Regions from separate parts of the Homo sapiens genome. Here all the other regions are linked to region 1. The links come from fine-mapping of genetic effects on gene expression. A gene starts in region 1. Each other region holds a variant in brackets. All regions are shown on one strand. Distances are between the middles of the regions.

Region 1 (4,354 bases):
AAACGTCCAGCATTTCTATAAGCAGTAATATCCTATGAGAGGAATCTTCTATAATCTGTATTTCACAATGTGTTCTGTATACATTAACCAAACAGCATATGGATTTGTCTTCACAAAATACCAAAAAAAGTTTTAAGTATGTTAAACATAAAATGCAAACATAAATAAGTAAAAACTGGAAATATATGAACAAAAATAGAAAATAAAATAAAATCGAAAACTCTTGAGGGGCTGGTCGAGGCAGGAGGATTGCTTGAGACCGAGAGTTCAAGACCAGCCTGAGGAACATAGGGAGATGCCATCTTTACAAAAAACAAAACAAAACAAAACAAAACAAAACAAAACAAAAATTAGCCAGGCATGGTTAAGCATGCCTGTAGTCCCAGCTACTGGGGAGGCTGACATGGGAGCAACTTGATCTTGGGAGGCTAAGGCTGCAGTGCGCCATGATGGTGCCACTGCATTCCACCCGGGGTAACAGAGTGAGACCCTGTCTCAAAACAAAAAAACAAAAACGAAACAAAAAACCTCTTGAGGAAGAAAAAAGCAACGTAAATTTTTCTTATGTGATTTTATGGTCTTTCATAAGGAATGAGAATTGTTATCCAACATTTATGGGATATGTTCAAAAATCATGACGCCCAAAAAATCATTGGTTAAAAATGTAAAAGGAAATATAATGAGAGAATAGTACAAGAATTAAATTTTACAGCCAGGGACGTTTTACCAGCTCATCCTTTTTAAATCCATTGCAAAAATTAGAAACATCGGCAACAAACCAAATCAAGATGAAGAATTAACTATAATATATAAGAGACTTATTAACACTTAAACATACGGGTTCCATCAACTCGATGGTTCCATTTTTTCCTTCTCCATCTGAAAGAATAAACATTTTTCCGGTGGGATGAATCTAAAAACGAAACATATAATTAAAATCTCACTAAAACAACAACAAAGTTTGACTAAAGATGAGTACATTGATCCTTAGTTGAGCACAAATCAACTGTTTCTTGAACAGTTTATTCATTCAGTTTATTCAACTTATTGGATCAAATTATAATCTTATGTTATCAAATCTGTTCATGGAACACACAGTTAATTTCTGAATTTCAGATAAACAAGGATTTTTTTTGTAGTGTTAAGTAGGTTCTGTATTTGCTAAATATGGCAACCCTATTCTGATAACAAATTAAAGGATGCCCACCCTAAAAGTGAAATCTGCTGGCACTCATGATTTAGACAGTACATATCCCACGGAGGGTATGTTTTAAAAAACAGGCATGATGAAGTAAAAGGAGAACTGGTTGCTAGAATATCTGGGTCCTACTCCTGGGAAGCAGCTGTAAAGAGCGCTGTCAGATTGCGTTTGAATGCCAGCTTTGCCATTTGCCGAGTTTCTGAGCATTTTAGTCAACCACCTACCACTCCTACTCAGTTTCCCTACTTGGGAAGTCAGAGCAACACTCATTTAAGGAAGAGGATGTGTGGATGAAATGAGCTACTAAATAAGTCTTTATATAATAGTTTTCTTTTCCTCAGCTTTTCAGGTCACTGATTCCAAGACTTTGGGCCTGTTTCTCGCCTGTAGAATGAGGGAACTTCACTTTAATACTGGGGTTAAATAACTCGTTACTACGGGACCCAAAGCGGACAACCAAGGCATGTTTTACAGAGAAGCGATCACAACGAGGAAACGAGGTTTGCAAAAATAAGTAATTTCAGAAGAGAAGGAAACCAGCAGATTAGTTTTGTCTGCGTCCGTCACGTCTGAGTAAACTAAGAAATCTGAAGGTAGATGTGGGAGTGGTGTTTATAATTTCCCTTACGTAAGCACGGCTAGAACGGAGGCGACGGGCACTGGAATTTAGAACTCAGCATTTGAAAACACTTTGTTTCCGTGCCATAAAAGAGCGCCAAAATGGGGCTACAACGGCTAAAGAATTTCCAAAAAGTTCCTTGTGCAAAATAAAGGAGTCGGGGGCGCAGTGATCGGAGGCTTTCCGTCCTTTTTCATCCCCCGTTATCCAGGCGGGGTCCCTCCCTCCAGCTACGGACTTGGGAGCCCATGATTGCGAACCCGCACACCTTTTCCAGCCTCCCTACGAAGCAGACAGGCTTGTCGATGAATTGAGCTAGCATGCCGGCGTTGATGCGCGACCTGGGCAAGTCCATCATGTCCACCATGATTATGGTCCAAGACTGCGGCTGGCGGGAAACCCACGGACGACTGAAACTGTGCGCCCCGCGGGTGTCTATGGGGCAGATTTCTCGGCACCAATCAGCGAAGACTAGCGCTCCAGCTTCGCCAATTAAATGCGCGGAAACCTAAATCGCAATCGCGCTGTCTCTGAAAGGGGTGGAGAAGGGGCTGGATGAGTCCGGAAGTGGAGATTGGCTGCTTAGTGACGCGCGGCGTCCCGGAAGTTGACAGATACAGGGCGAGAGGCAGTGGAGGCGGGACTTGGATAGGGGCGGAACCTGAGACTACCTTTCTGCGATCACAGGATTCCCGGCGGTGACTTGACCCCGGAAGTGGGGTGTGAAGCTCCGGTGCTGGTGCGGCGGGGGACTGCGGGGCCAGCCTCAGGTACCTCGTCTCGCGGGAGGCGCCGCAACCTTACTGTTTCCCCATTCTTCCCGCGAACAGAGTCAAAAGAGCTAGGCGGGAGTCGGCACTAGCTGCTGCCGCGGTGCTGTGGGTGCTGCGTACCAGCTGTTCACTGCTGTCTCGCCTTCCCTCTTGCCAGTTCTGCGTGGGAGGCGCGGGAGTTTTGCGGAATGATACGTGGTGTGGCGTCGGGGTTGTGATACCCGCCCCCTTGGAGATGGGCAGCGGGGTCATCAGTGATCTTGATCACTTTCTTCAGGCTTTTGCCACTTGTTGGCTGAGGGTCGATTTACTCCCTTAGCTGCGTCACTCTACTTTCTCCACTTTCTCCACCTGTAAGAAGAGAGATTGATCCGATTACTTCTAAGACGTTTTTTAGCCCAACCTGGCCACACTGCGGAGGCGCCGGTTCTTTCACCCCGCTAACCCCTCCGTGTTGGCAGCCAATAGAAGCACTTAAGGATGGGTAACGGGGAAGAACCACTGGCCAGTACTAGGGGAGACAAGCTTAAATCGTTGTTAGACCCCGAGCTAGGGTTCCCCGAGCTAGGGTTCTCCCTTCTGAGGCGTGTTTTCCCCATCTGCAAAACGAAGGGTTAGGCGGAATGATTTGCAAGGTCCCAGTTGACTCTGACTTTTGGCCATATGTTTGACTCAACAGTTTAAACCCCCTCAGCAGTCTTTCTGTCGTTGCCCTCCACACTGCGAGACTCTGGAGGGCGATCTGGAGGTCTGGAAGATAACCGATTCCTGGGAGATTTGGGGGTAGTCTCCAATCTGTCCCTGGCTCATCTTGTGACCCGAAGCCGGCGGCCTTGCCAGGAGTATTCTAGAATGAGTGCACATAAAAATACCTTCAAACGGTACGGTGGAAATTGGACAGAAGTTTTAATTGGGTATTATAACGTTGTGGAAACTGAGTCTGTGAATTGGCCCAAAGCTACAGAATTGTCATCGTTCAAATTCCCTTAAGCAAAAAAGATCCGATTTGAGACTTCACGTGGCAATTTAAGATTGGAATCTCATGTACGATAATTAAATGATAGTCTCCCTTAGTGTTTCCTTAGCACTTAATAGGTTTGTCTTAGTTTTACTCACTAACGGTACTTTAAAGGATTTCATTAAACAGATGTAGAATGTGTGTCAGTGGTGTATAAAAAAGTTGTGGTTGTATTGGTGCAAGTCAGTAAAGTCTATTTTATATTACAGCTTTAAGTCTTTTGTACTTTAGCATTGTTTTGCAAAGCAAGTTGATGTGCATTATATAGGGGAGAGTACACACATCAATGTCTTTAATAGCATTTTTTTTTGAGGCAAGATCTCTCTCTGTCACCCAGACTGGAGTGCAGTAGCATGCACATAGCTCACTGCAGCCTTTAACTCGTAGGCTTAAGCGATCCTCTCACCTCAGCCTGCCAAGTAGCTGGGACTATAAGCACATACCACCACACCCAGCTAATAAAGATTTTTTTTTTGTTGTTTGTTTTTTTTTGTTCAGATGGGGCCTCGCCATGTTGACCAGGCTTATCTCAAACTCCTGGGCTCAGGCGATCCCTCCCTCCCCCGTCTCCCTCCCAAAGTACTGGAATTACAGGTGTGAGCCTTGGTGCGTACCCTGTAATAGTGATTTTTTTTTTTTTTAAAGAGCACTCCTGTGAGTACCAGATGTTAATGTCGTTGTTTACCTGCAGTTAGAAAGACCACTTTTAAGCAAAGGCTTTCTTTTAAAACAGGGAGATGAGC
Region 2 (4,354 bases), 300 kb after region 1:
GCTAAATATAATGAAGTTAAACTCTTCCCAATTTAATTTGTAGGATTAAAACAATCCCAAACAAAATCCCAGTGGATTTTTTTAATTGATAAAATGTTTCTAAGGCTCATCTGGAAGAATAAATAGACTATTAATAATATAATTCTGAAAATTAAGAAATAAGAAGTTAGACTTGCTCAAAACGATATTGAAATGTATGAAAGTGACAACCCTTTCCACAATGATAGTTAAATAGGAAGCTCTTAAACATCGAATAGAAAGTGCTTAGGCATCTCTTTGTACTTTTAAAAACAGTATATGATGAAGTAATTGTAACAGAGAAAGTGATGAATTATTTAGTAAATGATGTTGGAATAATGGCTAAAGAAGGATAAATTTTCACCTTAAACTGTATTCTGAAATAAATTCTAGATAAGTTAAAGAAATATAAAAAATTAAAAGCATTATAAACTACAAGGGAACACAGAAAATATGTAACAGATTCCGGATGTCATTTAAGTCACTAAATCCAATGACTGCAGCACCAGTTGATAGTCTTGACTGCAAACGCTTTTTTTATTCCCTTTGCTTCCTTTGGCTTTCATAACACTTCCCTAATTTTTCTCTTACCAGTTTGGCCACTACTTCTCCAGTGACTTTGCAGGATTATCCTCCTCTGGGGACCATTATATGTTTGAGTTTCTCTGGGCCCATCCCTTCTCTCCACTGTCTTCCAAGGATTCTCATCATGCCTATGGCTGTAGTTACCACCTCCTGTCAGGTGACTCTCAAACTCCAGCCTAACCATTTCCAACTTTTCAGTATTAGTCAGGATCCATGCAGGAAATGTATGGCACATTCAAAATGGGTAATTAAGAAGACTTTAGTTAAGAGATCATTTACAGAGGGTTTAGGGAAGGCAACAAAGGATAATGGTACAGTATCTCAGGGAACATTACTGCTTTAGGCCTAAACAAGGAAGCAGGTGGAAATGATTACTGAATGAGAGTGAGAGAGAGGAGGAGGTGGCAAAGGAGTGGTACAAGTAGGAAAAGGTGGGGAAGAGGGGCAGGAGAAGGAAGGGGAAGAGAGAATGCAGTATGGAGATAATATGGAATAAATAATCAGCCTCCACGCTCTGCCTTCAGTCTTCTGCTTCTACCTCCCATTGGCTGAACCTAACTAGAAGACAGAGAACACGGGAACCAGGTGCTAAGGTTACATGGGATGTTGATTCATTTCATACAGGTCAGTCTCTCTGGATACAGCAGAATAGAGAAGGGTGGAGAGTGGCTCTATGTGGGAAAGCAGAAGATATCCACCTAGCATTCACCTCCTACCTGGCTTCTTCTCCAGGACATCCCAAGAGCATTTCAAACTCAACGGGTCCACAATTGAGCTCATAAACTGCCCGCTGCATACCCTCTCCTCTCAAAAAACAAACTAACAAAAATCCAAACTGGTTCTTTGTCAGTGTTTTCCTTCTTTTTTGTTAACAAGTTTATTTTCTTGCATTTCTTATTTTAAAAATTTTACTGTATATATTTAAGGTGTACAACATGATGTTTCGATATACATATAGAAAGTAAAAAGGTTACTATAGTCAAGCAAATTCACATCCATTATCTCACATAATTACTTGTTTTTTGTGTGTGGCACCTGAAATCTACTCTTTTAGGGAAAATCTCAAGTACAATACAATATTATTTCATGGAGCCCTCCTGTTGCACATTAGATCTTCTAATGTTATCTTATGTCATCAAATGCTATCAATGTCAGGATTGAATTCTCATTACCATGGAATGGATTAAACTGGGGCAAGAGTAGGAGCAAATAGATCAATGAGGAGGCTGTTCCATTAGTGCAAGCAGAAATGATGATAGAATGGACTAAAGCAGTGTTGGTAAATATGAAGAGAAATGGACAGATTAAAGTGGATAGATTAAAGAGATATGTAGAAAGCAAAAGTAATAGGATTTGGGGGTTTGATAGAATTGGATGTTGGGGGTAAAGGTAATATGGTTGTCAAAGATGACACCATGGATTTTAGGAAGGAGGCAGCACTCTTTAACACGGACTTATTAACCCTGCATAGTCAGCTTCTCCCAGCTCCATCCCCCAACCTCTCAGCCTTTCCAGCTTCATCTTATACCAAGACCCTCTCAGGATCCGGTGGCGTTTACTTTCTTTTATCCCTCTTATTTCCTGTGCTTGTTCCTGAGCAGGACCTTTGCACCTATAGTTCCTACTACCTGTAATGCCCTTACCCAGCTACCTGACTCCTTTTCATCATTCATAGTTCAATCACCGTTTCCCCAGGGAAGCTTCCCCTGATTTCCTTAGTTAGTCCTAATTTTCCTATTAGAGCTCTCATATATTGTGTACCTTCTCTTTGTAGGATCTGTCCACTGGCAGCTCACACTTATTTG[G/T]GTGGCTTTTCAGTTTAATGTTTGCCTTACCCTCGGTCCCCCCACTAGGATATAAACTAGGATATAAGACAGGGACTGTATCTTTTTTGGCTCGCTTGTGTATTATAGCCTGGAACCCTGTGGTTGCTACGCACAGACACACACACACACACACACCTATTAGTGAATGAATAACAGTAAAAGCAATGGAATATATCACAAAGAAAAATACTGGTATATTTAATTACATTAAGACTATATTCTTCTCTGAATTAAATAAGACTACATAGCAAATAATGAACAAGTGATAAACTTGGAGACATAGTCATAATAAATAGACAACAAGATTACACCCTCAATAGAGTTCTTACCACATCAACAATAAAAACACTGATAATGCCTAATAGGAATTGGCAAAAACCAAATAAAAAACTCCAAAAATCCCATAAAGAGAAAGGGTTCTGACAGCTTCTCACTGTAAAAATTGGAAGCCCAAATCAAACTAACCTAAACACTAAGGAAATAATATATTTTTGCATGTAACCAGAAAGTCAGGTTGACTTCTCTGAGGTTCACAAGATAACACCCAGCAGCACGTGGGGACAATACGCTTTCCTGTTCACATTCATCAGAGGAGAAGTGGAACCTCTCTCTCTCTCTTTTTTTTTTTTTTTTTCTTGGCTCACTGCAACCTCTACCTCCTGGGTTCAAGCGATTCTCCTGCCTCAGCCTCCCGAGTAGCTGGAACTACAGGCACCCGCGACCACACTCGGCTAATTTTTGTGTTTTTGGTAGAGGCAGGCTGGTCTCAAACTCCTGACCTCAAATGATCCACCCACCTCGGCCTCCCAAAGTGCTGGGATTACAGGTGTGAACCACCACACCAGGCCGTAGAATCTCTTTTCTAGCAACAAAATACAAGTGCTTCTTCTCAGCCTTATTGACTCAGATTAGGACCAACCTGGATTAAATCTCTTGTCACAGGAATGCTATGTTTTGATTTTGAACCTTTCACTAGCCAAAGAGATTGGATTACTATGCTTGGTTCAATAGTAATCAGGACTCATTCCGAGAGCTGGGGTCAATTCCAGAAACTACATTGTTGTTGAGGAGTGAAACACGATGTCCACTGTAATTGGCCATAACCATAGGAAAGAAATGGTCAACTTTAGGATTGAGGGAGATAGAAGAAAATAAAGACAGCTGTGAGGCATCATTTTTCAACTCAAATTTAAAGCTGGCTTTTAAAATTACACCATTCACTGAAAATGGATTATAAATTGATTTAACTTTTCTGGAGGGCAATTTGGCAATATATGAAGCACCTTTAAAACATTTATGACAAATTTTGGAAAGTATACATATGTGTAGAAATAAGGAAACACAAAAATGTTCATGTGGCTGCCACTAAGTGGTAAGTTTATAGATGATTTTAATTTTCTTTTTAATATTTTCCATAGTTTTTAAAAACAGGCCTAATTACATTTATTTAAACACAAAGAACGTGAAGTAACCTGTTATTTAAGAACATGGACAAATTCCAGTCAAGAATATCCTCTAGAAGCTTGAGAGGTGGGAAAAGTAGTTTGGGGGATTTATTTGCTCTCTCAAGGTGATGAAAAGAAAAATATCTGAATCAAAGAGTCTGAGTTATGGAATTCTCTGCTTCTGGGGTTCTAGTGCAGCCCCGTTGGTCTGGAATTCAGGAAAAAAGATACAAGGCATAAAATCCCACAGAAAGTTACACAGTTGCAACAGAACATTTAGCATTTATTGCTTGTTCTTCTAATTAAACCTCTAATTCAACTCACTAGGCCCTTGCCTGCTAGCTTTAGTGAGTAAAGTTGAGACCATGTGACTGGACTTAGCTTGATTTAATGTCATGTTCATTGAGGAGAATGGTTGGACTTTTTTTTAAAAAACATGAGCATAGGAAATATCTGAAGTCACTTTTAACACTAGTCTGA
Region 3 (4,354 bases), 240 kb after region 1:
ATATGACTTATTACTGATGCAAACGTGAACATTTTGTAGTAGTTTTGTAAAAGAACATCCTTTTCAAATATCTGTGTTAATGTACCCTTGAAATTAAATGCAAGCACATAGTCAGTTTGTCTAATTTTGTGTGAAATTTTGTCGAAAATACCTAAACATTTCATCTATATTTGTGCCTACCATGTTATAAATGTTCATAAGTACCTTCATGTGTCTATAAAAAATGTTATATTTAAATAAATGTGAATTAAAATAAAATTTTTGATTATTTTCAGATCCAGAAAAATGGGTTTGATTGCATTATTTATATCTGAATGCAAGTTGTTAATTCTTTAGGAGCCAAAAAGTTTAAGTATATAGTTTGTATAGTGCTGGGAAAAATATACGATTTCCTCTTACATGTAAGTTTTAAGGAATAACATTAAAAATGGTAAGATCCCTAGTCCTGGCTTAACAGGACTGGAGGGATTTGAGAGAGATGACATGAGCATTTCTAGATTGATACCATCATCACAACATTTAGTAAGGGCCAATGTTAATGATCTTCTTCTTTAAACAAAAATATTGTGAAAATTACCATTTAATTTTTTATTCTGTATATAAATTAATATTTCTATGAAACATTAGAAATCAATACGTCAACTTCATTTTACCCAAGATAAAATTGAAGCCTAGAAAGACTAAATGACTTAAATCACTTAGTGATAAATAAATGCCTACTTTAATAGTGTTAGTAATTATAATATATGATAACAAAGCTGTATGATATGGTGGGAGAGAGTTCAGGCAATTGAGGCAGCCAGACAGAGTTTGTAATGGCTCCCTCCTTTATAAGCTGTGGGGCTTTCAATCAGTCCCCTAACTTCTGGTGCCCTCAGTTCTCTCAATTGTGAAACACTAATTGTTCATAACTTGTAGCGTTGTGTTAAGTTATAGGTGGTGTATGTCAAATGCCTGGCAGCCTAAAGCCTTGCACATCATCGGTATTCTGGGAAAGGGATTGTTATAATTCTCGTTATTGACCATACACACACAATACTATAATGAAATGCAAAATACATATTAATTGAACTTCTTGAAGAGTAACATAAATAAAACAGCTACCTACGTTAACTGTAGATCCCCCTCCTTCCCAGTTATTTTTTTCCATATTAAATACCTTACTATGAGAAATATTCCTAAAATATGTTAGTTGACTGTTCTGCCTTAACTAAGAATTCCATAGTGAACATTTTTTTCTTTTTCTCGTTATTACAGTCTTTTTCCTAATATATGTTATTGTTGCAAAGTACTATAGATATGGAATGTGCAGGTGATTTTACTGAATCTTATTTATTTATTTGTGACAGAGTTTTGCTCTTGTCACCCAGGCTGGAATGCAATGGCATGATCTCGGCTCACTGCAACCTCCTCCTCCTGGGTTCAAGCGATTCTCTTGCCTCAGCCTCCCAAGTAGCTGCGATTACAGGTGCCTGCCACCATGCCTAATTTTTTTTTTTTTTTTTTTTAGTAGATACAGGGCTTCACCATGTTGACTAGGCTGGTCTCGAACTCCTGAGATGATCCACCCGCCTAGGCCTCCCAAATTGCTGGGATTACAGGCATGAGCCACTGTGCCCAGCCTTGAATCTTATTTTTAGCCCTAAAATATATTCAAGAACTTGCATGTATTTTTTTCCCAAGCTTTCTTTAAAGACATTTGCATTCTTTCCTAAAAACAGAATGAGAGAGGCGATTCTGACCAATTTATTATCCTGGCTAATTAAATTTTGATCAACTGAACTTTTAAAATTGTACCATTAAAATGTTAACAAAGCCACAATTTTTATTAACAATTGCAAATCAAATCCGTAATAGTTTTTTAAGGTAAATATTCATTGACGTCAACACTTATTTTTTTCTTCTCTTAAAGAAAAATGGTAAATTCAAAACAGTATGAAAAAATTCTTCTAAAATTCCCAGAGATTTCATTTCTCATAATTCTAAATGACAGATAAGGAGAAGCAAGGAAAGAATCTCACTCATGTTCTGAAACCGTAGTACATCAGACTACCTCTGTGCCTCCCATGGTAACAATTGATCAATAAGTGAACACTGCCCTCAGTAATCTAGCAAAGAATATGTTTCTTTCAGAGATTAGTGCGTTATCTTATTAATTATGTCAATAACTCACACAAAATATAAGTTTATTGGAAATGCAGTTGAAGGATGGTTTATCTTTTAAAGTTTTTGGGAAATACAGGTTTATTGACATTCTCTTTTGAGCATTTGTCCCATATTACTGAGGGCATGACCTAGGTATTATTGGGAAATCTAAAACTTTCAGAATAAGTCCAATTCCATTCATACTACAGTGGCTTGAAGGATTAAGTATTCTTATGTTTCAGGAAAAGGACTCTTTTTGCCATATGGTTTGGCAGATAGGCGTGTGTGGGAAAGAGAGAAAGAGGTATTGATTGACGCAGGGAACTCTGTTTCAGTC[G/A]ATGTGACAATATGTCAGTCTTTTAAAAATTTAAATAAACTTTTTATTTTGGAATAGTTTTAGATTCACAGAAAAATTATGAAGGTACTACAGAGAGTTCCCACATACCCCTCACTTAGTTTCCCCTGTTGTTGACATGTCACGTAACTGCAGTACATTTGTCACAACCGAGGAATCAACACCGGTACATTGCAATTAACTACACTGCACACCCCGTTCAGATTTCATAGTTTTCCTCTAATGTCCTTTTTCTCCTTCAGCAGCCTACCTGGGATAGCACATTACATTTATTTAGTCGTCATATCTCCTTAGGCACCTCTTGGCTTCAACAGTTTCTCAGACTTTTTATTTTTGATGACCTTGACAGTTTTGAGGAGTACTGGTTAAGTATTTTGTAGAATATTTCTCAAGTGGGGTTTATCTGATGTTTTCACATGGTTAGACTAGGGATATCGGTTTTTGGAGAAATATTAAAAAGGTGATACCCCCTTCAGTGAGATTATATCGTATTGAGAGTAGTATAAGCTATAGACATGACTTATTACTGATGATGCTGACTTTGAATACCTGGCCAAAGTAGTGCTTCTCAGGTTTCTCCACTGCAAAAGTTATTCCCCCCAACCTTTCTATACTCTTTGGAATTAAATCACAAAGCACAGCCCACACTCAACGAGTGGGTAATTAAACTCCACCTCCTTGAAAGGCAACTATCACATAAATTATTTGGAATTCTTCTGCATGAGAGATTTGTCTCTTTTCCCCAATTTATTTATCAATTATTTATATTAGTATGAACTCAGGAATCTTCAATCTTTTTCCAAGTCTTAATCAGTGCTATCCAAGAGACATATTTACATTTTTATGAAAGTCGATAAAATTTGGAACATTTTACATGGTGCAGATGAATACCATTTTATGTTGGATACGATAGTATATTCTATGGTTTCCTCAAAATTTATCTTCCTGTTAATGTCAGGCATGTATCTCCTTAGCTTGCCACAAATAACTATATATACCACAGACCTTCCTTTGTAGGGCTAACAGTGTTGCATTGTAAGTGGAGGCCTCATAGATACCTGGCCTTTTCCTACCTTATTCCAAAGATGGTTGCATCTTATAAATAATGTCATTCTTCAGCAAATGGTATGGAAATGAGATTGTAATGTCATTATTTCCTCTTTAAATAATCAGGACAACTCATGATACAAAGAGCTCTTCTCTATAAAAGGTGGGACTTTTTTTTTTAGTAATAGCAAAAATAAAATTGTACCTCCTTAATCTTCTACAGAAAGATGGATTTCATTTTCAACATTAAGAGGTAGTTTTAAGAAGCAGTAGAAGTCAGCCTGGGCAGCATGGTGAAACCCCGTCTCTACAAAAAAGTTAGCTGGGCTTAGTAGTTGCAATCCCAGCTACTCTGGAGGCTGAGGTTGGAGATCATCTGAGCCTGGGGAGGTCGAGGCTGCAGTGATACAGTGAGCCGTGATTGTGCCACTCCAGCCTGGTTGACAGAGTGAGACCCTGCCAAAAAAAAAGAAAGGGAGAAGGAGAAGGAAGCAATAAGAGGAAGAAGAAGAAGGAGGAGGAGAAGGAGGAAGAAGAAAGAAGAAGAAAGAAGAGGAAGAAGAAGAAAGGAAGAAGGAAGAAGGAGAAGGAGGAGAAGGAGAAAAAGAGGAAGAGGAAGAAGAAGAAGAGGAAGAAGAAGAAGAAAAGAAGAAGCAGCAATAAAAGGAAACCAATCTTCTTTTGGAGGGGAAAAGTGCCCAAGAATCTCATAATTTTACTTCTCATTAGCGAAAGCTCACTGCATGCTAAAAGGTAAATTTGATGAGTGGATCTCATTCAGTTTCCTTTGGGAAAGACACAATCAAA
Region 4 (4,354 bases), 110 kb after region 1:
AAAATTCTTTTATTTTTAGGAGCAAAAATTTGGGGAAAATAATGTAATATTTATCAGAAGGATACTTTAGGATTTAGCTCTATCAGCCAGGCAGGGTCATCAGTAAATCTAAGAACTGCCAAACTTCTCACACTCCTAATTCCCTCTTTTATCCCTCCTTTTCTGGCTGTGCTAGAGATATCCTATTACACATGATTTTCTTTTACTCTGGGCTCTTCTTCGCCCAGATCAGTGTGATTGCTTTGCATTGATTTCTGTATTTGCTTAAAAAAAATTTCCCTTGATAATGTTTTTAAACTTTCTAGCATGAGCCTTTCCATACTTGGTATTGGTGTTTTATAATAGATTTGAGGACAGGTTTGTGGGGGATTCCATAACAAATTCAATTTATCAGTTACTTCTTTTTAATGTTAAAATAACTGCAACAATTCCACAATAAATAGAGTGAAATTTGATGTGCTAAATTAATTTAAATGGTTTTGACACATTTTCCTTGAAGGACTCTTTTCTAGGTTTTTATAATCTCACCTCAGTGAGAGTACAGTATGGTTTAATTACTTTCCAGCAGTGCACACTTTAATAGCCCGTATTCCACGTGAAAGCTATGTGTCTTCTGTGGGTTTGAACTGTTTCTGCCTAATCCAAGGAAAAATATTTGAGGAACATTAGTTAATGCCTTTTCCAGGAATGGGAGTGGGTAAGCGTTTTTTTCATGGCTTATAGAATATTTAGCAATTTTAGCTTCCAGTACTTAATTTTATAGTGTTCTCAGTACTGGTGGCAAAGGCTTCCTTCAGAAAAGTGAGAAATTATGTGAATTCCCCTCTTGGCATGCTTAGGAGGGCAAGTCATGAATCTTTACTCTCATATTTTTCTAAAATAAAACTGGGCGTTGATATTTGCTGTGATCTAATATGTAGATATGATGAAAAGATTTATAAAATAGCATATATTGAGATTTTTGTATGTTCTCATAAAAGGTGCTATAAATTGAAACATTTATTACACAGAAAACGTCTAAGATAAGAGTATTATTTTCCAGGATAGTTTATCTAAGTTCTGTAAAACTTTTAATAATGTAAGTAACTACTAATGAAAGGACGTTATGTGTCACATTTGCATTCATAAATATCCATGAAGGATCTCTTTCACCAATGTTATTCAGTCTCAGTCCAAGACAAGGTCAGACATTGATTATGTTTGACATCTTAACAAAAGTGAATAGGGAAGATAAATATTCTTAATTATACTGCTAGAATGGTGAGAAGCAGTGGTCTATAATGTAAGGAGGAATATTAGCAAAATAGAATTATGGTCAATTGCAATTATAATAACTTCTATGCATTAAGTATCTTCTACTACATATTAGCTCTTTATATATGTCTTATATAATGTAATTTTAACTAATATCTTAAGAAGTCTAGGTAGTATTTATACCCATTTGCCCAAATCTGGAAACGGAGTTTCCAAAAAATTAAATAAATTCCTTAAAACTGCCCAGCTAGAGTCCATTTCACATCTGTCAGGCTCTACTAAGCTGCTTGTCAGTCTTTGACTTCCTCATTATCAGAGATAGATATGGTATTGATAATGTACAAATTGTTTATTTGGCCCAGAAATGTGTTTGTGCTTTTAAATTTGAACTAATTGTCTTTGGCAGTTTGAAATGTACAATACTTGATGGAAAATAATAAAACTCCACTCCAATTAGAATAACTACCTGATTTCTTGATTATAGCTTCTTTAATGACGGCCCATTTTATATTATACACGGTTTCATATTTTTCTTATATTTAACAAACACATATACAACACTACTGTGTGTAAGGCACTGTTCTAAGTAGTTACAAACATGAATTCATGTAATCCTCACCAGTATACTTATGAGGTAGGCATTATTTTATCCCCATTTTACAAATAAGATAAATGAGGCACAGAGAGGTTAAGTAACTTGCTCAAAATCACACAGCTAGAACATGGCGGAGCTGAGATATAAACCCAGTCAGTTTGGCTGCAGAGTGCTCTTAACTGTATGTATTTTTCAGATGTTTCAGAATTTGGTGAAAGCAATAATTGTTCTAATCCTATTGCTGGATTTAAAAGTAGGAAAGGGTAAATAGAGATAGCAAACA[G/A]TGTCAATAAAGTATTTAATAAGAAGTAATGACCCCCATAATACTTTGAAATTCCCTATATTAAAAATACAAGATGAATTGTAAAGAGAAACTGAAAACCAGCTTTAACTGTGTTAAAAGCCAGTTGAGACTTCTACTTTATTTATCCATTTGATATTATGCAGGCTTCTCTTTGTGTATATAGCTGAGCAATGTGAATATAATGCTGTCATTATTGTTTTCTGTGTTATACCACTAGTTACATTACTTCAGATTATGAAGTACAGTATTGAGCTCTGTCGTTGACTATATCTCTCCCCAATTATATGTATCATGATTTTAGCCCATATTTTATAAATGAGAGATAATTTTAATGAATGTGTGGGGCAAATAAAACTTTTAGAGTTGGTATGTTAAAATAGGGCTAAAGTTAAAGTTTCAAGAATTGTAGAGAGAGAGAGACTAGATGTGCCAATGCAAACAATGGATTGGTGAAACTGAAACTGAAGAAATTTCTGATAAGTTAGAGATTTTTGGTTAACTAAGATTTCAACCTGTGTGAATCTCAATTTTGGCAGAAATGAGGAATGTAAGCAATTCTAGCTTTGCAATGTGGAAAAGTCAGGGAAACTAAATTAGACTTTGCACTAACACTTCCTATAAGCATATGTCACCCTGATATTGAATGTTGTATATGAGGGTGGAGGGACAGGTGGGGACAAACACCCAGCTCCTCCTGGGCTTGAGCCAAGGACCTTTGGCTTCAGTTGGATCTTGTAACTGCCCTGTTTACCTGTAATCAGAGGCAAATTTACCAGGAGTAAATTTACTGGGATTTAGGTTTCAGGACCTCTGACTTGCACAGACCTCCTCCAAGGCTCTGCGAGGACCTCTAGCAATGTGTTCACGTGATCATATGGTTTTGCAAAATTTGAGGAATTTAAAGGTATTTAAGCATAATTAGTTAAGACTGCTATCTCTTTTCTACTCTGACGGTCCTTCTATCACATTTCCTCACACAGGATTGCTTTGGAATGATCACAGGCATTTATCAGATCTGGCTAAAGGGAAATTGAGTTGAGAATATACAACTTTAAACTATAGTTTGAAAGATATTTTGAAACATTTCAATAAGACAAGGGAGAAATTATAGACTCCTAATTTAGGTACATAGGGTTCATTATTTTCTCATTTTTGCACTTATTTTTTAAAGAACTGAGATAATTTAGATAATGGAACATAAAACTAAAGCAACAAAGATGAATGATGAAATAAGTAGAAATTATTTGATATCAAAAAGCATGTTGTAAAAAAATAGATTATAACAAAAGCAGTAATGCATTGAAAAGAAAAGTTTCTAATAGAGATAATAAATAGGCTTGATAGACTACTTGAAAACTTAGTTAATAAAAAAGAGTGAATCATATGAATACACTGGGGAAACACTTAAGTTTCTCTTGATTTAACCACAAAATACGTATCGAGAAAGACAACATAAAATGTCATAATATGTAACTATAATGAGCTTTATAATTAATGAGTATCTTCAGGTCAAAGAGTATATATATTAGTTGCCACATATGAAACTTTGAAATACCCTGAAATTTTGCAACTCATAAAAGAAAAAAATTTTATGAAAGTTTTCCCAAATTTTACAGTGATCCTAAAAACCCGACATGAGTTGTGAACTGAAAAGAATCTTTCCTTAACACATATTTCTAAAAATTCTTTTTATAGCATAATTAGAAGAGATGCCAAATTATTTTTTAATTTCGTATGTGGAAAATTGTGTTATAAAATTGTCATTTGTCAAAATATGTATAATCAAAAATTTTAGAAAAAAGCATTATAGAGGTTTGTTGGATAAATAAAAATAAGATGGTATTTTTCTGAATTTCATGATGTTTATTTTCAGCTATTTAAAATTTGTAATTTTTCTGTTCTAAATATACTTCCACTTTCTCTTCTAATTTTGTATTCATAATTTTGTATTCTTTTTCTTTAAAAGGTCTAGAAAAGTTGCATAAGATTCAGTTACCCTACAACCTGGATCCACCCTGGTCTGTAGTTAATGGTTTTAAACATGAAAAAATATATTTATTATGTAGCATACATATTCCAGAAGGCATAAAGTGAGAAGTAAAAGACCCCTCCTCCACTCTCATTTGTAAGCCCAAAAAGAAAATACTTGACCTTCTTTATGTATTTTTTAAAATTGTTGTCACATCATCTTTTTATTTATT
Region 5 (4,354 bases), 140 kb after region 1:
TTTCTGTTTGCAAACTGAGTCCTCAGGTGCACCAAAATCTTCTTCCCCTTTCTCTGAGCAGCTTCTCAGGCTTAGATGCTACTCTGACTTCTCGACAGACTTCTGCTTCTGTAGAACATGAGCAATGTTGTTTAGGAAAGAATGGAGCAGAGTGTGGGGTGGATTAGAAAGGTAGAGTAACAATTAAGAAACTGAGGCAGTTTTTAAGGTCAGAACAATAATGAAGAGCATTGAAGGTAGATAGCAGCAGGATGCAGCAATAGAATTATGGGACATGCTAATTACTAGAATCAGAATCAAAAAATCTGGATTAAAGTTCCAGCTAGCCTAGCGTTGTGGGAAAGCCATTCCCTCACTTTCTGTTTCTTCATGTATAGAGTGGAACCTGTTCTACATACCAAACAAGTTGTAAGTCTCAAAAAAGAAAGAGAGAGAGCTTGAGAATGTGAAAGTGTTGTGAGGTAGTATAGTTATGGAACTGTTTGACCCATTTATGTCCTTTTTTTGGGAACTCTTGACAACCAAGGAAAGAGAATACAAGAAATATTAAATTTTACTAACATAGATTCTTTGTGAGTGCTCTTAAAGCTGTTTGATAATCCCACTACTTATCTCTGTTTGATTCCCAACCCACTGCTTTCTCATAACACCAATTTCAACTCTTGTCATCCTTCTCAAGCCCCAGGCCCAGTTCCTTCTATTTTAGTCTCAGTAGATAAGTTCTTCCCCAATTTTGCCAGGAAGGTTGAGCAAAGCCCTTGAGTTTCCCTGGCCACCATCTCAAAATGTATTTCTTCACTTAATTTCCATCTCACTTTCTGTCTCTTCCTCGCAAAGGTAACCTGTATCCTTATCACATTCTCATCCCATTTCTTCTCTAACCTTTCTTCATCAATTATTTCATGTCTTTCTCTTGTTCTTTTAATCTCCTCTACCGGTCCTTCCTCATAGCCAAGAAACCCTCTTTAAGTTCACTGTCATATGTGTTTCTTCCATTTTCACTGCCAAAATTTTCCAAAGACTGATTTGAGCTCATTCTTTCTTCACCATTCATGCTTTCTTTTGGTCCATTTCAGTATGGCTTCTGTCTGTTCAAATAAGCACATGAAAAGATGCTCAGCATCGGTAGTTATTAGGGAAATGTAAATTAATACTGCAATGAGATACTACTTGATATGGTTTGGCTGTGTCTCTACCCAAATCTCATCTTGAACTGTAATCCCCATAATCATATGTGTCCTGGGAGGGACCCAGTGGGAGGTAATTGAATCATGGGGGCAGTTTCCACCATGCTGTTCTCATGATAGTGAGTGAGTTCTCATGAGATTTGATGGTTTTATAAGTGTCTGGCATTTTCCCTGCTGTCTCTCATTCTCTTTCCTGCCACCCTTTGAAGAGGTGCCTTCCGCCATGATTGTAAGTTTCAAGCCCTCCCCAGCCATGCAGAACTGTGAGTCAATTAAACCTCTATAAATTACCCAGTCTCAGGTATTTCTTCATAGCAGCATGAGAATGGACTAATACACTACTACACCCACTAGAAAGGCTAAAATTACAAAGACTGACCATACCAAATGTTGATGAGGATATGGAGAAATTGGAATTGCACATATTGCTGGTGGGAATATAAAATGTTACAGTCATTTTGGAAGTTTGGCTGTTTGTAAAGGAGGTAAACATATACCTACTATATGATGCAGCTATTCTACTTCTAGGTATTTACTCAGGAGAAATGAAAAAATATACTATGTGATTCCATTTAAATAAAAATCTAGAAAATGTGAACCTATAGTAATGGATAGCAAAGTGGTTGCCTGGGAATGAGTGTATAATGTTGGAAAAATGGATTACAAAGTAATACAAGGAAACTTTTCAGGGGTGATGGATCGTTATGTAGGTTGTGATGATGCCTTCACAAATATATATAAACTCATCAAATTTGATACTTGAAAATGTGTAATTTGTTATACACTATACCAAAACAAAACTATTTTAAAAAATCATAGAACTGCACACTGAAAAGGGTGAGTTTTATAGTATGTAAATTATCCCTCAATAAACCTGACTTAAAAAACAAAACAAAACAAGACATATGGAACCAGGCACAGTGG[T/C]ATGCACTTGTAGTTCCAGCTACTTGAGAGGCTAAGGCAGAATGATCAGTTGAGCCCAGGAATTCGAAAGCAGCTTGGGCAACATGGCAAGACCCCATCTCTAGAAAAGAAATAAAAATATGAAAATGCAATCAATATGGGGAATGAGAGTGCAAAAAGTAATTGTTAAACGCTAATCTCAAAATATTGCATACTTTGTAAATCCATTTATATAGTATTCTCAAGTGACAGGGTTATACAGATAGAGAGCAGATTAGTGGTAGCCAGGTTTAGGGATAGTAAACCATGGGGAAAACTAGGTGACGGGCACACAGGAATTTTCAGTGTTGTTTTTGCAATTATATGACTAAAGAATCTGTATCACAAAAAGTTTCTTTTGAAAAGGCCTTTTAGATATTGTATTCTCTAATGTGAAACAAAGACAGCATGCCAAAAAATAATCAATCTTTATAATTAAATCTATAATAACGGTTACTCTGCAAACACTTGAAACTAAATTTCATAGAGATGATTACAATTTAACATTGTATTGTTGTAGACAGAAGGCACAGGAAGAATCATTTTCCAATTTCTGATCACCCTATCTAAATGTTCAAAATCTTAAATTCGTTTTGACTAGATAATACATATAAATGGCTAAAAAATATATGAAAAGTAATACACTGAAAAGCCTTCCTCCAACATCTGTCATCGATCCACACAGTTCTTCCTCCTCCAAAAGTAAACTACTACTGTTCATCTTTTATGTATTCTTTCAGAGTTTATGTCTACACGAGCAAATGCAGGTGTATCTTTTTACCCTCCTCCATGCTTGTATGCAAAAGGTAGCTTACTATACCAACTCGTTTTGCGCCATACTTTTTTCACATAACAATGTATCTTAAGACATTTTCAAGGTGGTATGCAGCTTTTTAATTTTTTCTTTTGACAGTTAGTATTGTATTATATGACTGTACCATACTTTATTTACTGATCTCCTGTCTAGCCATTTAGATCATTTCCAGACTTCCGCTTGTAAAAACAATACTACAGGCTGGGCGTGGCGGCTCATCCCTGTAATCCCAGTACTTTGGGTGGCTGAGGCGGGCAAATCACAAGGCCAGGAGTTCAAGACCAGCCTGGCCAACATGGTGAAACCCTATCTCTACTAAAAATACAAAAAATTAGCTGGGCGTGGTGGTGGGTGCCTGTAATCCCAGCTACTCGGGAGGATGAGGCAGGAGAATCGCCTGAACCCGGGAGGTGGTGGTTGCAGTGAGCTGAGATTGAACCACCGCACTCCAGCCTGGGAGACAGTGTGAGACTCCATCTCAAAAAAAAAAAAAAAAAAGAAAAACTACAGTTAATATTCTTATATTTATGTCATTTCATACATGAGCAAATATATATATATATATATATATATATATGTAATTGCCAGTATTTGGCTTTTTAACCTAGAAAAAAATTTATGTTGTTCAGTCTAATATCTGTAGAGTAAATGTTCACATATGTAATTCTTTGAGACAAAATATTTAGCATCCTTTTGATTTTCTGATCTACTTCCAGATACTCGTGATAGTCTGGATGTTTAAAATTTGTAAAAGGGAGTGGGGAACCTTTATTTAAAAGCTCCTTTTCAATATAGTTAAGGGGGAAATACCCATGTACACAGGGCTATTTCTGGAAATCCTTTACCAGTAACTTCATTCAGTAACATATCTAACTCTAACCCTGATCTAGCTGTGTTAGGCTTCCTTGCCTGCTAGTGAAAGCCTTTGCTCTCCCCTTATTAAAAGGCCTGAACATAAAACTCTGAGACTGTTTATCCTTCCCAAGTGGGGCATTGCAGAAAAATATCTTCTTATTCGCTATCAGTGTTACTCTCTATTGATCATCACAATTATTGCAACTTTAATATTATGACATTGTATGTCTTATGCAATATTAGGTTCTCTGAAAAAGGCTTTTTGTACATATGACAAATAGGTGGAGTATGCTCTTCTACACAGTGAGCCAACCAGCCGTCATCTTGGCTTCTCCAAAACTGGTTTTGTGTGTGTGTGTGTGTGTGTGTGTGTGTGTGTGTGTGTGTGTGTGTGTGAGAGAGAGAGAGAGAGAGAGACAGAGAGAGAGCGTAAATATGGCAAAGTTTAACAACTGATGAATATAGGTAAAGGTGAACAGTCTAGAGTGTTCATGGTACTGTTCTTTCAAATTTTCTGTAGATTTAAAGTTTTTCTTTTTTTTCTTTCTTTCTTTTC

Alleles and levels. Alleles are on the strand shown, and positions count from the first base shown. SD is a standard deviation of normalised expression in the study named. Not every link is listed here.
With allele A in place of G in region 3, the expression in lung of the gene that starts at base 2,521 in region 1 is higher (small effect, 0.34 SD a copy in GTEx).

Evidence for each region. PIP is the estimated chance that this variant, and not a neighbour inherited with it, causes the effect. A credible set is the group of variants that fine-mapping cannot tell apart.
Region 2: its variant is the best candidate, but not a certain one, in a credible set for the expression of UMAD1 in transverse colon (GTEx, PIP 0.78).
Region 3: its variant is the best candidate, but not a certain one, in a credible set for the expression of UMAD1 in lung (GTEx, PIP 0.69).
Region 4: its variant is the best candidate, but not a certain one, in a credible set for the expression of UMAD1 in lung (GTEx, PIP 0.76).
Region 5: its variant is the best candidate, but not a certain one, in a credible set for the expression of UMAD1 in stomach (GTEx, PIP 0.58).

What each region holds. Positions count from the first base shown.
Region 1 is chr7:7,638,232-7,642,585 of GRCh38, forward strand. UMAD1 (UBAP1-MVB12-associated (UMA) domain containing 1) reads left to right here and starts at 2,521. Exons shown (of 4, transcript NM_001302348.2): 1 at 2,521-2,590. It overlaps RPA3 (replication protein A3), which reads right to left. Exons shown (of 8, transcript NM_002947.5): 5 at 2,089-2,944; 6 at 839-913. The coding sequence starts at 2,187. RefSeq lists enhancers at 1,702-1,751, 2,122-2,171, 2,442-2,641, 2,682-2,731, 2,812-2,981 and a silencer at 2,212-2,341.
Region 2 is chr7:7,939,841-7,944,194 of GRCh38, forward strand. No RefSeq gene overlaps it. Among named protein-coding and RNA genes, the nearest start is that of GLCCI1-DT, 27 kb to the right of the region's middle. The variant G/T (reference allele first, on the strand shown) is at 2,409.
Region 3 is chr7:7,878,938-7,883,291 of GRCh38, forward strand. UMAD1 (UBAP1-MVB12-associated (UMA) domain containing 1) reads left to right here. Exons shown (of 4, transcript NM_001302348.2): 4 at 1-286. All of the region lies in intron 3 of LOC124901586 (a long non-coding RNA gene), which reads right to left. Among named protein-coding and RNA genes, the nearest start is that of GLCCI1-DT, 88 kb to the right of the region's middle. The variant G/A (reference allele first, on the strand shown) is at 2,483.
Region 4 is chr7:7,748,783-7,753,136 of GRCh38, forward strand. All of the region lies in intron 2 of UMAD1 (UBAP1-MVB12-associated (UMA) domain containing 1), which reads left to right. Among named protein-coding and RNA genes, the nearest start is that of RPA3, 32 kb to the left of the region's middle. The variant G/A (reference allele first, on the strand shown) is at 2,133.
Region 5 is chr7:7,774,083-7,778,436 of GRCh38, forward strand. All of the region lies in intron 2 of UMAD1 (UBAP1-MVB12-associated (UMA) domain containing 1), which reads left to right. Among named protein-coding and RNA genes, the nearest start is that of RPA3, 58 kb to the left of the region's middle. The variant T/C (reference allele first, on the strand shown) is at 2,112.